Linked DNA regions of Homo sapiens. The protein of the gene in region 1 interacts with the protein of each later gene in a pairwise test. Each region holds a gene or a part of one and is shown in the gene's direction. Other genes may lie near its edges. The genes, in order: CLDN6, MS4A3 and MAPK8.

Region 1 (4,333 bases):
GAGATCACTGCAGCTTCCTTCCCCCCACCTCCCCTTGAGATTGCGTCTCACTCTTGCTCAGCCTGGAGTGCAGTGGTACGATCACGGCTCTCTGGGCTCAGGTGAGCCTCCCACCTCAGCCTCCCAAGTAGCTGGGACCACAGGCCCTGCCCCACCACGTCCGGCTAATTTTTGTATTTTTTGTAGAGACCAGGGTCTTACTATGTTGCCCAGGTTAGCCTGGCCACTACAGCTTTGTTAAGGGCCCGGGGGGTATAACAATTAAACCTGAGGTCAGGAGCTCGAGACCAGCCTGGCCAACTTGGTGAACCCCCGTCTTTACTAAAAATAAAAAAAAGAAAGAAGTTAGCCGGGCGTGGTAGTGGGCGCCTGTAATCTCAGCTACTCGGGAGACTGAGGCAGGAGAATTTCTGGAACCTGGGAGACGGAGGTTGCAGTCAGTCGAGATAGCGCCATTGCACTCCAGACTGGGCGACAGAGAGGGCCTCCATCTCAAAAAACAAAACAGGCCGGGCGCGGTGGCTCACGCCTGTAATCCCAGCACATTGGGAGGCCGAGGCGGGCAGATCACGAGGTCAGGAAATCGAGGCCATCCTGGCTAACACGGTGAAACCCCGTCTCTACTAAAAATACAAAAAAATTAGTCGGGGGTGGTGGCGGGCACCTGTAGTAGTCCCAGCTACTCTGGAGGCTGAGGCAGGTGAATGGCGTGAACCCGGAAGGCAGAGCTTGCAGTGAGCCAAGATCGCGCCACCACACTCCAGCCTTGGCGAGAGAGCGAGACTCCATCTCAAAAACAAACAACAACAACAACAAAAAACCAGCAACATAAAAATAATATTATCTGGCCGGGCGCGGTGGCTTAAGCCGGTAATCCCAGCGCAGTGCGAGGCCAAGGCGGGCGGATCGCTTGAGTCCGGGAGTTCGAGACGCCTGGGCAATATAACAAGACCCTGTCTATACAAAACAAAACATAAATTAGCTGGGCACGGTGGCGTGTGCTGCCTGTAGTCCCAGCTACTCAGGAGGCTGAGGCGGGAGGATCGCTTGAGCCCAGAAGGTCGAGACTGCAGTGAGCCGTGATCGCACCACTGCACTCCAGCCTGGGTGACACAGTGAAAATATTTCTCTAAAATAATACCAATAGTATGCCCTTTAATTTGTACCTTAGGACGTAGTTACATAATAAAATGCAGACTTGTTATCTCCATTTTGCAGAGTAGGAAACGAAGGCTCGGGAAGGTTAGGTGAGTTCCCCATGTCACCGCGCTGCTTAAGTGGTGAAGCGGAGTCTCAAGCTCTGTTCTACCCTAAGCCTGGCGCCCTCACCCTGGGTGAGTCTGGACGTCTGCCAGCCCGAGGCGGGCCCAGCGACCCCAGCCTCCAGCGCCCCCCTCTGACAAGCCTGGGATTCGCACGCCCGCTGCCGTCAGGGACAGGGTCTCTGCCCCTCCTCCGGGGCGGTGGTCCAGTGACGTCACCGCTTCTTTAAGACCCCCGCCTCCGCCCCTGTCCCGACACTCGGCCTAGGAATTTCCCTTATCTCCTTCGCAGGTGAGTCCGGGGCTAGTGTGCGTGTTGGAGAGACGCCTCTTGGGGCCGGGTGCAGGGTGGTGGCGGCGTGGGTAGGGGTGCGTGCGAACTCGGGCTGCGGCCACCTGGATGGGCGAGTCCCTGAGGGGGTCGGCCGGTCCGCGCCCAAGCCTCCGAGGTGATAGGGTCCTTCGGGGCTCCCAAGGGTTAAACGCCCCTCCCCCCTCCCCAGGGACAAAGACTCCGAAACCCCTGGCGCCCCTCCCCCACCTGCCTTGCCTCTCGGGGCGGGGCGCCCCTCCCCCCTCCCCCTCACCTGGGGGAGCGGACCTTGCGGCCACTGCAGCTATAGAACCCCTCCAGGGCGCGCGGCTCCCAGGCTGGGGTGGTCGGGTGGGCCGGGGCGCCCTCGGACAGAGTCTTTTTCATGCAGTGCATGAAAAAGAAAGGGGCAGGGGCACACTCAGAGGGGAGAGGCCTGGGCGCCTATACCAGCGCGGCCCCGACCCTAACTCGGCCAGAGGCCTAAGGGCCGGACCTGAGCGCTGGGGCACCGTGCCCCAGCCAGTCTCCCCAAGGTGGTCTGCTCCGCCCAGGCCTGGGGCCCCCGGCTAATGAGTAGAGCCTGCCCTCCGACCGCTGCCGGCCGGGAAAAGTTTAGGTCCAAGCCGTACAATGAAAGTACTCTGGGCAGTGGGAGGCCACAGCCCGGCCCTAGTCAGAAGTGATTCCCTCCACGACCTCCAACACTGAGGGGACACAGGTGCAGGCCAGGTGGCGGTGGGAGAACTGGTGTTGAGGGGAGTCTAGCACGGCATTTTCGTCTAGAATTCATAGGAAAAGGCCCTCAGCCTTGAGGCTATGCTCTCCGGCGCCTAGGGCAGGTCAGAAGGGTGGGGCCAGGGAGTTATCCACTGGCTTTGGGGGAGGAACTGCTTTTAGATGGGGGATTAATGATGCTTTTCTTCATCTCTCCTGGTCCTGGTGTCTGCCAGCCTGGGGTGTGGAACCAAGTTGTGAGGGACATTGGGTGGTGGGAGGAAGCTTAGGATCTCCAATCTTAGTGTTGAAATTAACAAGTTTTGGTTGGGCACGGTGGCTCACACCTGTAATCCCAGCACTTTGGGAGGCTTGAGGCGGGCAGATCACCTGAGGTCAGGAGTTCGAGACCCGCCTGGCCAACTTGATGAAACCCTGTTTCTACTAAAAATACAAAAATTAAGACCAGGTGTGGTGGCTCATGCCTGTAATCCCAGCACTCTGGGAGGCTGAGGCGGGAGGATCACGAAGTCAGGAGATCGAGACCATCCTGGCTAACACAGTGAAACCCCGTCTCTACTAAAAATACAAAAAAATTAGCCGGGCGTGGTGGTGAGCGCCTGTAGTCCCAGCTACTCGGGAGGCTGAGGCAGGAGAATGGCGTGAACCGGGGAGGCAGAACTTGCAGTGAGCCGAGATCCCGCCACTGCACTCCAGGCTGGGCGACAGAGCGAGACTCCGTCTTAAAAAAAAAAAAAAAAAATTAGCCGGGCGTGGTGGTGTGCACCTGTAATCCCAGCTACTTGGGAGGCTGAGGCAGGAGAATCGCTTGAACCTGGGAGGCAGAGGTTGCAGTGAGTGGAGATGGCACCACTGCACTCTAGCCTGGGCCACAGAGCGAGACTCCTCGTCTCAAACAAACAAACAAAACAAATGGACAAGTTTTGAGCCTTAAACTCAGGGCTAGAATTGAACCATTCTACACGGAAACTGCTTGGAAATCGCACCGTCCTGTCATCCTGCTTTTTGCCGCCTTGCAGCCTGATCACTGGCTCTGGCCTTGGACTGTCATTGTATAGGTTTCATCCTGTTATCTTTCATTTGCATTCAGGATAGCCAGGGCAGGGCTGCTTGCACAGTCACTGTCATCAGCCAGTGCCTGTCACATAACTAGAAAGAATAATAAATGCTAAAGCATTAAGTGTCCATTTTGCCCACGAGAAGTGAGGCTCAGGGAGCATGTCTTGACTGAGTTCCAGGATGTGATGACCACTTTCCAGGGTGCATGCCCCTAGAGTCCTGTCCACATGTGGCCTGAGGTCTGGGCCTGCCAGGCCTCACCTTGTTGTGCTTCTGTCCCAAACACAGTGCAGCTCCTTCAACCTCGCCATGGCCTCTGCCGGAATGCAGATCCTGGGAGTCGTCCTGACACTGCTGGGCTGGGTGAATGGCCTGGTCTCCTGTGCCCTGCCCATGTGGAAGGTGACCGCTTTCATCGGCAACAGCATCGTGGTGGCCCAGGTGGTGTGGGAGGGCCTGTGGATGTCCTGCGTGGTGCAGAGCACCGGCCAGATGCAGTGCAAGGTGTACGACTCACTGCTGGCGCTGCCACAGGACCTGCAGGCTGCACGTGCCCTCTGTGTCATCGCCCTCCTTGTGGCCCTGTTCGGCTTGCTGGTCTACCTTGCTGGGGCCAAGTGTACCACCTGTGTGGAGGAGAAGGATTCCAAGGCCCGCCTGGTGCTCACCTCTGGGATTGTCTTTGTCATCTCAGGGGTCCTGACGCTAATCCCCGTGTGCTGGACGGCGCATGCCATCATCCGGGACTTCTATAACCCCCTGGTGGCTGAGGCCCAAAAGCGGGAGCTGGGGGCCTCCCTCTACTTGGGCTGGGCGGCCTCAGGCCTTTTGTTGCTGGGTGGGGGGTTGCTGTGCTGCACTTGCCCCTCGGGGGGGTCCCAGGGCCCCAGCCATTACATGGCCCGCTACTCAACATCTGCCCCTGCCATCTCTCGGGGGCCCTCTGAGTACCCTACCAAGA
Region 2 (3,650 bases), on another chromosome or scaffold:
CCATTTGTTCTTAGCATTTAGCTCCCACTTATAAGTGAGAATATGTGGTATTTGGTTTTCTGTTCCTGTATTAGCTTTCTAAGGATAATGGCTTCTACTTCATCCATGTTCCTGCAAAAGACATGATCTCATTCCTTTTTATGGCTGCATAGTATTCCACAGTGTGTATGTACCACATTTTCTTCATCCAGTCTACAAATGATGGACATTTAGGTTGATTCTATGTCTTTGCTATTGTGAATAGTGCTGCAATGAACATTCACGTGCATGTGTTTTATGGTAGAATGATTTATATTAAGATCTTATTCTTAACCCAATCGATAGTTATGGCAGAATACAGCATCATTTTATGTGTTTGTTTATGGTTCATCTCATGCCATCTCCCTCATCAGTTATAAAAGCATATAAGCATTTTACAACTATTTTGTGTAGGAGGGTACTATGAATTAGGAAGTTATCTTGCCCAACATTCAGAAGTCCAATGTAAGCATTCTGTGTGTACTTTAGTGATACATATTTTTCAGCTGTAATGATTGAGGTGGTTGTTTTGTGACCCTTATATATATACAAACTTGAAGTCCTTTTTGTTAGAAGGCAGAGTATAAGTTAAAAGCTGATACCACCTGTTCACAGGTTGAGAATTCCGTACATTATCAAAGTCAACTCTCGCAATGTTAATATAAAATTAAAATTATTCCCATTTTTACAGAAGTGAAAACTGAGGTTCCCACTACAAGGTCATGCAACTAGTAAGTGATGAAATCTGGATTTGAATTGGAATCTTCCATAGTGCTTAAACTCTGAAAACTGAGGTTCCCATTACTAGGTCATGCAACTAGTAAATGATGAAATCTGGATTTGAATTTGGATCTTCCATAGTGCTTAAACTCTACCATGCTATGTTGGTACTCAGAAAGACGTCTTCTATATAGTACTATATAATGTGGTGATTTGAAAAATATTGGACCTTAGAGTAGAATGTTTTTAGTAAAATCTGAAATGATTTATAAGCCATATGAGTTTGGGTAAGTTTCTCGGTCTCTCTATACCTCAATTTTTTTCATCTGTGAAACGGGAATAATAATAATATTATAACAGGATTAAGTATATTAATACATTCACAGCATCCAGACAGTGCTTGGCATATAGTAATAAGTACTAAATAAATGACACCTACTATTATTACTGGAATGTGACTAAAGCCATTATTCTTATAAAGAGACCACTGCTCAGAGAAACCATATGTCTGGTTGCCCTTGACTGACTTGAAGAAAGGCAGGGACTATATATCAGTGCATGCAAAATGAGAAAGAAATTGCTCTTTACCATTCCAAAGTTAAGTGAAGCACCAAGGCCTACTACAATGACCCGATGATGTCTACTACTCCAAGGCAAGACAGAATTGAATATTGTACAAACTCTGTTACTCTGCCCTGGTGTCCCATTTGTGGAGAGTCATTGTAATGTATGGACAGAATTGAACCCTTCTGTAACACTCAAAATTTTAGTAGCTAGTGGAAAAAGGGAAAGCATGAAGGCTTTGGATTTCTTTTCTATCACAGCCATAAACAACCCCAATGGCCTCCCACGAAGTTGATAATGCAGAGCTGGGGTCAGCCTCTGCCCATGGTACCCCAGGCAGTGAGGCGGGACCAGAAGAGCTGAATACTTCTGTCTACCAGCCCATAGATGGATCACCAGATTATCAGAAAGCAAAATTACAAGTTCTTGGGGTAAGTCAGCCTTAGTTTAAACACTGATTTAAGAGGGAAGAAAATAAATACAGTTGACCTGTGAATAACGTGCGTTTGAACTGTGAGGATTCCCTTACATGTGGATTTCTTCCACCTCTGTTTGCCATCCCGAGACAGCAAGAACAACCCCTGCTCTCCCTCTTCTTCCTCAGTCTATTCAACGTGAAGAGGATGAGGATGAAGACCTTTATGATAATCTACTTCCACTTAATGAATAGTAAATACATTTTCTCTTTCTTATGATTTCCTTAACGTTTTTAGTTTCTCTAGCTTATTGTATATAATATGTCACATACAAAATATGTGATAATCGACTGTTTATATTAATAGTAAGACTTCTGGTCAACAGTAGGCTATTAGTAGTTAAGTTTTTGGGAAGTCATAAGTTTTACGTGGATTTACCACCATGAAAGGGTGGGCATTCCAAACCCCAATGTTGTTCAAGAGCCAACTGTATCATGTAGAAAACCTTGCTTATGCTGAGAAGGAGGAAATTCTGAGTTATTTATCACTGACTTAATAATGATTGGAGAAAAGACAGGGACTTCTTATAGATCTGGGGAGCAGAAATGCAAAGGCATTTTCTCATGGTAGAAAACATCAAACCTTGGAGAACAGATTCCAAGACCCTTCATTTTTTGTTTTGTGCCTTTTGACCAGCCATTTGAGGAGGCTGAGCTCTATGAAGCTTATATTCTATATTTTAAATTTAAAAATTGGGTTGAGAGAAGGGTTAAAAATTGGGTTGAGAGAAAGGCTGAGTAGGATATGGCTTATCCTCTGTCTGCCTTCATCATATTATGATGCAAAAGCATGCTGGGAAGAGACTTTGACTCCATCTACCTTACCAATCATGTCTGTTTTACTGTCCTGCCACTTTCTGAGAGGAGTTCGTGAGAATGAACAGAAATGTGGGGGAGAGGTGAAGACAAAATGCTGCCACTGGAATTGGTGTGGATAGCGTGGAATAAAAAACTCTTTCAGATAAGCTCTCGTTCTGTTAATTTAGGCTTGACACTTTAACCATTTCAAGCACCGACATCTCCTTTCTGAGGAAAATTAAAATGGCCTGTTTTCAGTGTCCACTTTAGTATATGACTGTTACGCCTTTTTCCCCTTTCTTCTTTCAGGCCATCCAGATCCTGAATGCAGCAATGATTCTGGCTTTGGGTGTCTTTCTGGGTTCCTTGCAATACCCATACCACTTCCAAAAGCACTTCTTTTTCTTCACCTTCTACACAGGCTACCCGATTTGGGGTGCTGTGTTTGTGAGTATTCGTACTCCCCTGGCTATATGTTATTTCTTAGATACCACTGCTGGAGATGTGTTTGATGACAAAAATATTGTTTGTAGGTTATTGGAAGGTTGCATGCTGTGGTTTTGATTTGCAATTCTTGATATAAACAATTAGAGACGATAAACTCTTTTTTATTTTTTAATTTAATTAATTACTTAATTAATTTATTTTTTGAGACAAAGTCTCGATCTGCCATCCAGGCTGGAGTGCAGTGGCATGATCTCTGCCCACTGAAACCCTCTGCCTCCCCAGTTCAAGTGATTCTCTTGCCTCAGTCTCCTGAGTGGCTGGGATTACAGGCATGCACCACCATGCCCACCTAATTTTTGTTTTTGTATTTTTAGTAGAGACAGGGATTCACCATGTTTTCCAGGATGGTCTCGAACTCCTGACCACAAGTGGTCCTCCCAGCTTGGCCTCCCAAAATGCTGGAATTGCCAGGCATGAGCCCTGATGCCAGGCCAAAAATCTCTTTCTGATTAAGAGAAACCACATTTGCCAAGTACAAATGAAGTCCTAAAAATTATCTTATATATAACTATATGTTACATTTATAGATACTTAAAAAATTGAATGAAAAATGGGTATTGATGAATTG
Region 3 (3,650 bases), on another chromosome or scaffold:
TAGCACATCTACCGTGTTATCCAAAATCCCTAGTAAGAGGTTGTAGCCTCATGATTAAACACATTAACATTTCTGTAAAAAATACAGACATAGGCCAGGCGCGGTGGCTCACGCCTGTAATCTGAGCACTTTGGGAGGCCGAGGCGGGCGGATCACCTGAGGTCAGGAGTTTGAGACCAGCTTGGCCAACATAGTGATACCCCGTCTATACTAAAAATACAAAAATTAGCTGGGCGTGGTAGCGTACGCCTGTAATCCCAGCTACTTGGGAGGTTGAGGCAGGAGAATCTCTTGAATCTAGGAGGCGGAGGTTGCAGTGAGCTGAGATCGTGCCACTACACTCCAGCCTGGGCGGCAGAGGTGTAGACTCTGTCTCAAAAAACAACAACAACAACAACACCCAGAAATAATCAAAGACATTAATATTTTTATAAAAGCATAACAAATACAAGTAGGGTGAATAAAGATTATAAAATCTTATGCTACGTCTCGTCAGGTTTTACCACCAAATACGTTTGTACTAAACTTATTTTAAAAACGTATTTTTCACAGCTTTATGGATTTTGGCTTTGCCAATGAAGGATAGGTGTCATACATATATACAGTACTGTATAGCCTCTGCTCTGCTCCCTCCCTTTTTATTTAATGTAAGTTGTTGCATGCAATATGTATCACCTTTTGCTTTTTTGTTTTTTGCTTGTTGGTTTGTTTTTTGAGACGGAGTCTCACTCTTGTTGCCCAGGCTGGAGTGCAGTGGCACAATCTCAGCTCACTGCCACCTCTGCCTCCGAGGTTCAGGTGATTCTCCTGCCTCAGCCTCCTGAGTAGCTGGGATTACAGGTGATCCACCTGCCTTGGCCTCCAAAGTGCTGGGATTACGGGTGTGAGCCACCGCACGTGGCCTGCTTTTTGTTTTAATATAGCTGAGAGATTATTTTATATCAGTCATATCAGTATGTAAATGGCATGCTTTTTTAACATCTTTGTGGTATTCCATTTGTCTTACTCTGTTTGGGCTGCTATATCAAAATACCATAACTTGAGTGGTTTAAACAACAGAAATTTATTTCTCACAGTTCTGGAGGTCGGGAAGTTCAAGATTAGGCTACTTAGTCAATTTGGTTCCCTGGTGAGGGTCCTTTTCCTGGCTTTATAGGTGGCCGGCTTCTGGATGTATCCTCACATGGCCCCTAAGAGCTCTAGTCTGTTCCTCATCCTATCATGGGGGCTCCACCCTCATGACCTAATATAGTCATGAGAGGCTTAGTTAACTCCTAAAGGTCTCTCCTCCAGATACTATCAAGTTAGAGGGTAGGCCTTCAACATATGAATTTGGAGGGACACAGACAGTCCATAACATCATTATACTGGTATACCATTTAACTCCTTTCTGATGCATATTTAGGTAGTTTTCAGACTTTTGCTATCAAAAGCCATGGTGCAGTGGATTACCTTGTGCATACGTCGTGTTGCACTTAAATGCATAGGATAAATTTCCAGAGGTAGAGTTCCTAGGCCAGCGTATGTGCATTTGTAATTTTATGTATTGCTGAAGTGTAGCCTGTAGAGGTTGTCCAACTTCCATTCCACCAGCACTGTGTAAGGATGCCTGCTTCTTATTACCCTTAGACGTCTTTCATCTTTTAAGGGCTGTTTGTGTTTTCTTTCTTTTGAACTGTCCTTGTCTTTGCATGTTTTTCTATTGCTTTGTTGCTCATTTTCCTAGATTTGTAGGATTAATTTTACAAATTGGCTCCATGCTATTTTTTGGAAATGTTTTTCCCCAATTTGCTGTTTTCCATTCTATGGTAGGCTATTATGTATGGTTCCAACTTTATTTTCTTCACCAGATATCCATCCATTTGTCCCTACACCATTTATTAAATAATCCATCTTTGTCTTAACTGATTTAAAATGCCACCTTTACCATTTACAAAATTTCCACGTGTATTTGGTACCATTGTTTCCATTGACCCATCTGCCTGTTTGGGACCTGAGCCATCCTGTTTTTATTATTGTAGTTTATGCTGTGTTTTCTGCTAGGTCTAATTCCCTTTTATTTCTCTTCCTTTTCAGAAGTTTTTTTCTGGCTTCTATCTTGTTTATTTTATATGAACTTCTAAAAACAACCCATCTAGTCTAGTCTGTACCCCTCCTCTGCCAGTCTTTCTGTTGGAATCACTTTTTTTATTTTATTGTGGTAAAATTATGCACAGCTAGATGCACAAGCATTACAGTCCAATAAGTTTGCCTTTGTATACACTTGTGCAATCCCAGATCAAAATACAGAACACTTCCATCACCCAGAACCTTTTCTTACATCCTTTTCAAGTTACCTTGCTCCCCAGTGATTGGCTTCTATTAAATGGATTCAGTGTACTGTTAGGATTTCTTTGTATTTATAGAATAAGTGACAGCTTTATGATGTACCTTTATATCCAAGAATAGGAAAAACAACCTTTTCATTTGTTGAAGTCTCATTTTGAGTTCCTGATAGCATTTTTAAACATTAAAATTTTTTTTTGCTGTTTTATATATTTAAGTTTTTTTTTTTTTGCTGGAAATGGCATCTTTTTTTCCACTTTTATCTTCTATCTGGTTATATATAAGAAAGCTTTTTATTTTGTATATTAGTTAATATTTCATATATTAAATAATAAGCCCCCTGTAGAATATTTATTATTTCTAATAGTTTTGTAGTTGAATTTTTTATTTTTCTTATGTCATGCCAGCTTTTTTGTTTCCTTTGATTTTTACCTCCTCCCTCCCCCAACTTTTTATACTCTTATATTTTTTCTTATTGCATTTATAGTGGTGATTTTAGAAGATTATAGTTTTCCTCCATTATATGTAAAATGAGCCAAAATATCTGTTTATCTGTTGAGTATTTAAATGTTATGAATAATAATGAAATTAGGGAGGGATTATGGGAATACTTAAAGTAGTGTGAAGTTTTCTCTCTAAAGTTAATGTAACTTGAAATGAATTGTGGTTTTCAAAATGTTAAATGGACAAGTTGGGGATCACTTGATAGTGAATGTAGGATTAGCAGTTAACTGCCTTGTGTCTTATTTGATGATACAGTCATGCACCACATGGTGAGGTTTCGGTCCATTACAGACCACATATGTGACAGTGGTCCCATAAAATTATACCATATTTTTACTCTATTTTTTCTATGTTTAGATACACAAATACTTCCCATTGTGTTACAGTTGCCTGCAGTATTCAGTACAGTAACCTGCTGTACAGGTTCGTAGCCTAGGGTCAGTAGGCTACACCATATTATAGCTTAGGTATGTTGTACTATCTAGGTTGGTGTAAGTAGATTCCATGATGTTTGCACAGTGACGAAATTGCCTAATGATGCATTTCTCAGAAGGTATCCCCGTCCTTAAGCAAGGTGTGACTATGTGTATAGGCTGCTTTCTATGTGCTTAGCACCCAGAGGCAGCTCCCGGAAATATAATTTAGTCTGGTGTCAGAGAGCATGCAGTCAAAGTAGAGGTCAAGATATGAGAAGTATGAAGTGAATGAATGTAGACAGGAGGGTCTTAAGCTTGGAAAAATGCAAAAATCAAGTCAGGAAAGCACAGGAGTGAGAGGGTGCAAAGAGTGAGTTTGATTTGGCAACTGGATTGGGGCAGGTT

What was found.
Region 2: the proteins of CLDN6 (region 1) and MS4A3 interact in binary tests that used the Homo sapiens proteins (3 or more experiments, as listed by UniProt).
Region 3: the proteins of CLDN6 (region 1) and MAPK8 interact in binary tests that used the Homo sapiens proteins (3 or more experiments, as listed by UniProt).

Annotation. Positions count from the first base shown.
Region 1 is NC_000016.10:3,015,370-3,019,702, reverse strand, and holds the start of CLDN6 (claudin-6), read left to right. Parts: upstream 1-1,519; 5' UTR 1,520-1,554; intron 1,555-3,660; 5' UTR 3,661-3,681; coding exon 3,682-4,333.
Region 2 is NC_000011.10:60,059,584-60,063,233, forward strand, and holds part of MS4A3 (membrane-spanning 4-domains subfamily A member 3), read left to right. Parts: intron 1-1,562; 5' UTR 1,563-1,577; coding exon 1,578-1,733; intron 1,734-1,939; exon of another isoform or gene 1,940-1,971; intron 1,972-2,884; coding exon 2,885-3,022; intron 3,023-3,650. UniProt on the Homo sapiens protein: Hematopoietic modulator for the G1-S cell cycle transition. Modulates the level of phosphorylation of cyclin-dependent kinase 2 (CDK2) through its direct binding to cyclin-dependent kinase inhibitor 3 (CDKN3/KAP).
Region 3 is NC_000010.11:48,313,059-48,316,708, forward strand, and holds part of MAPK8 (mitogen-activated protein kinase 8), read left to right. Parts: intron 1-3,650. UniProt on the Homo sapiens protein: Serine/threonine-protein kinase involved in various processes such as cell proliferation, differentiation, migration, transformation and programmed cell death.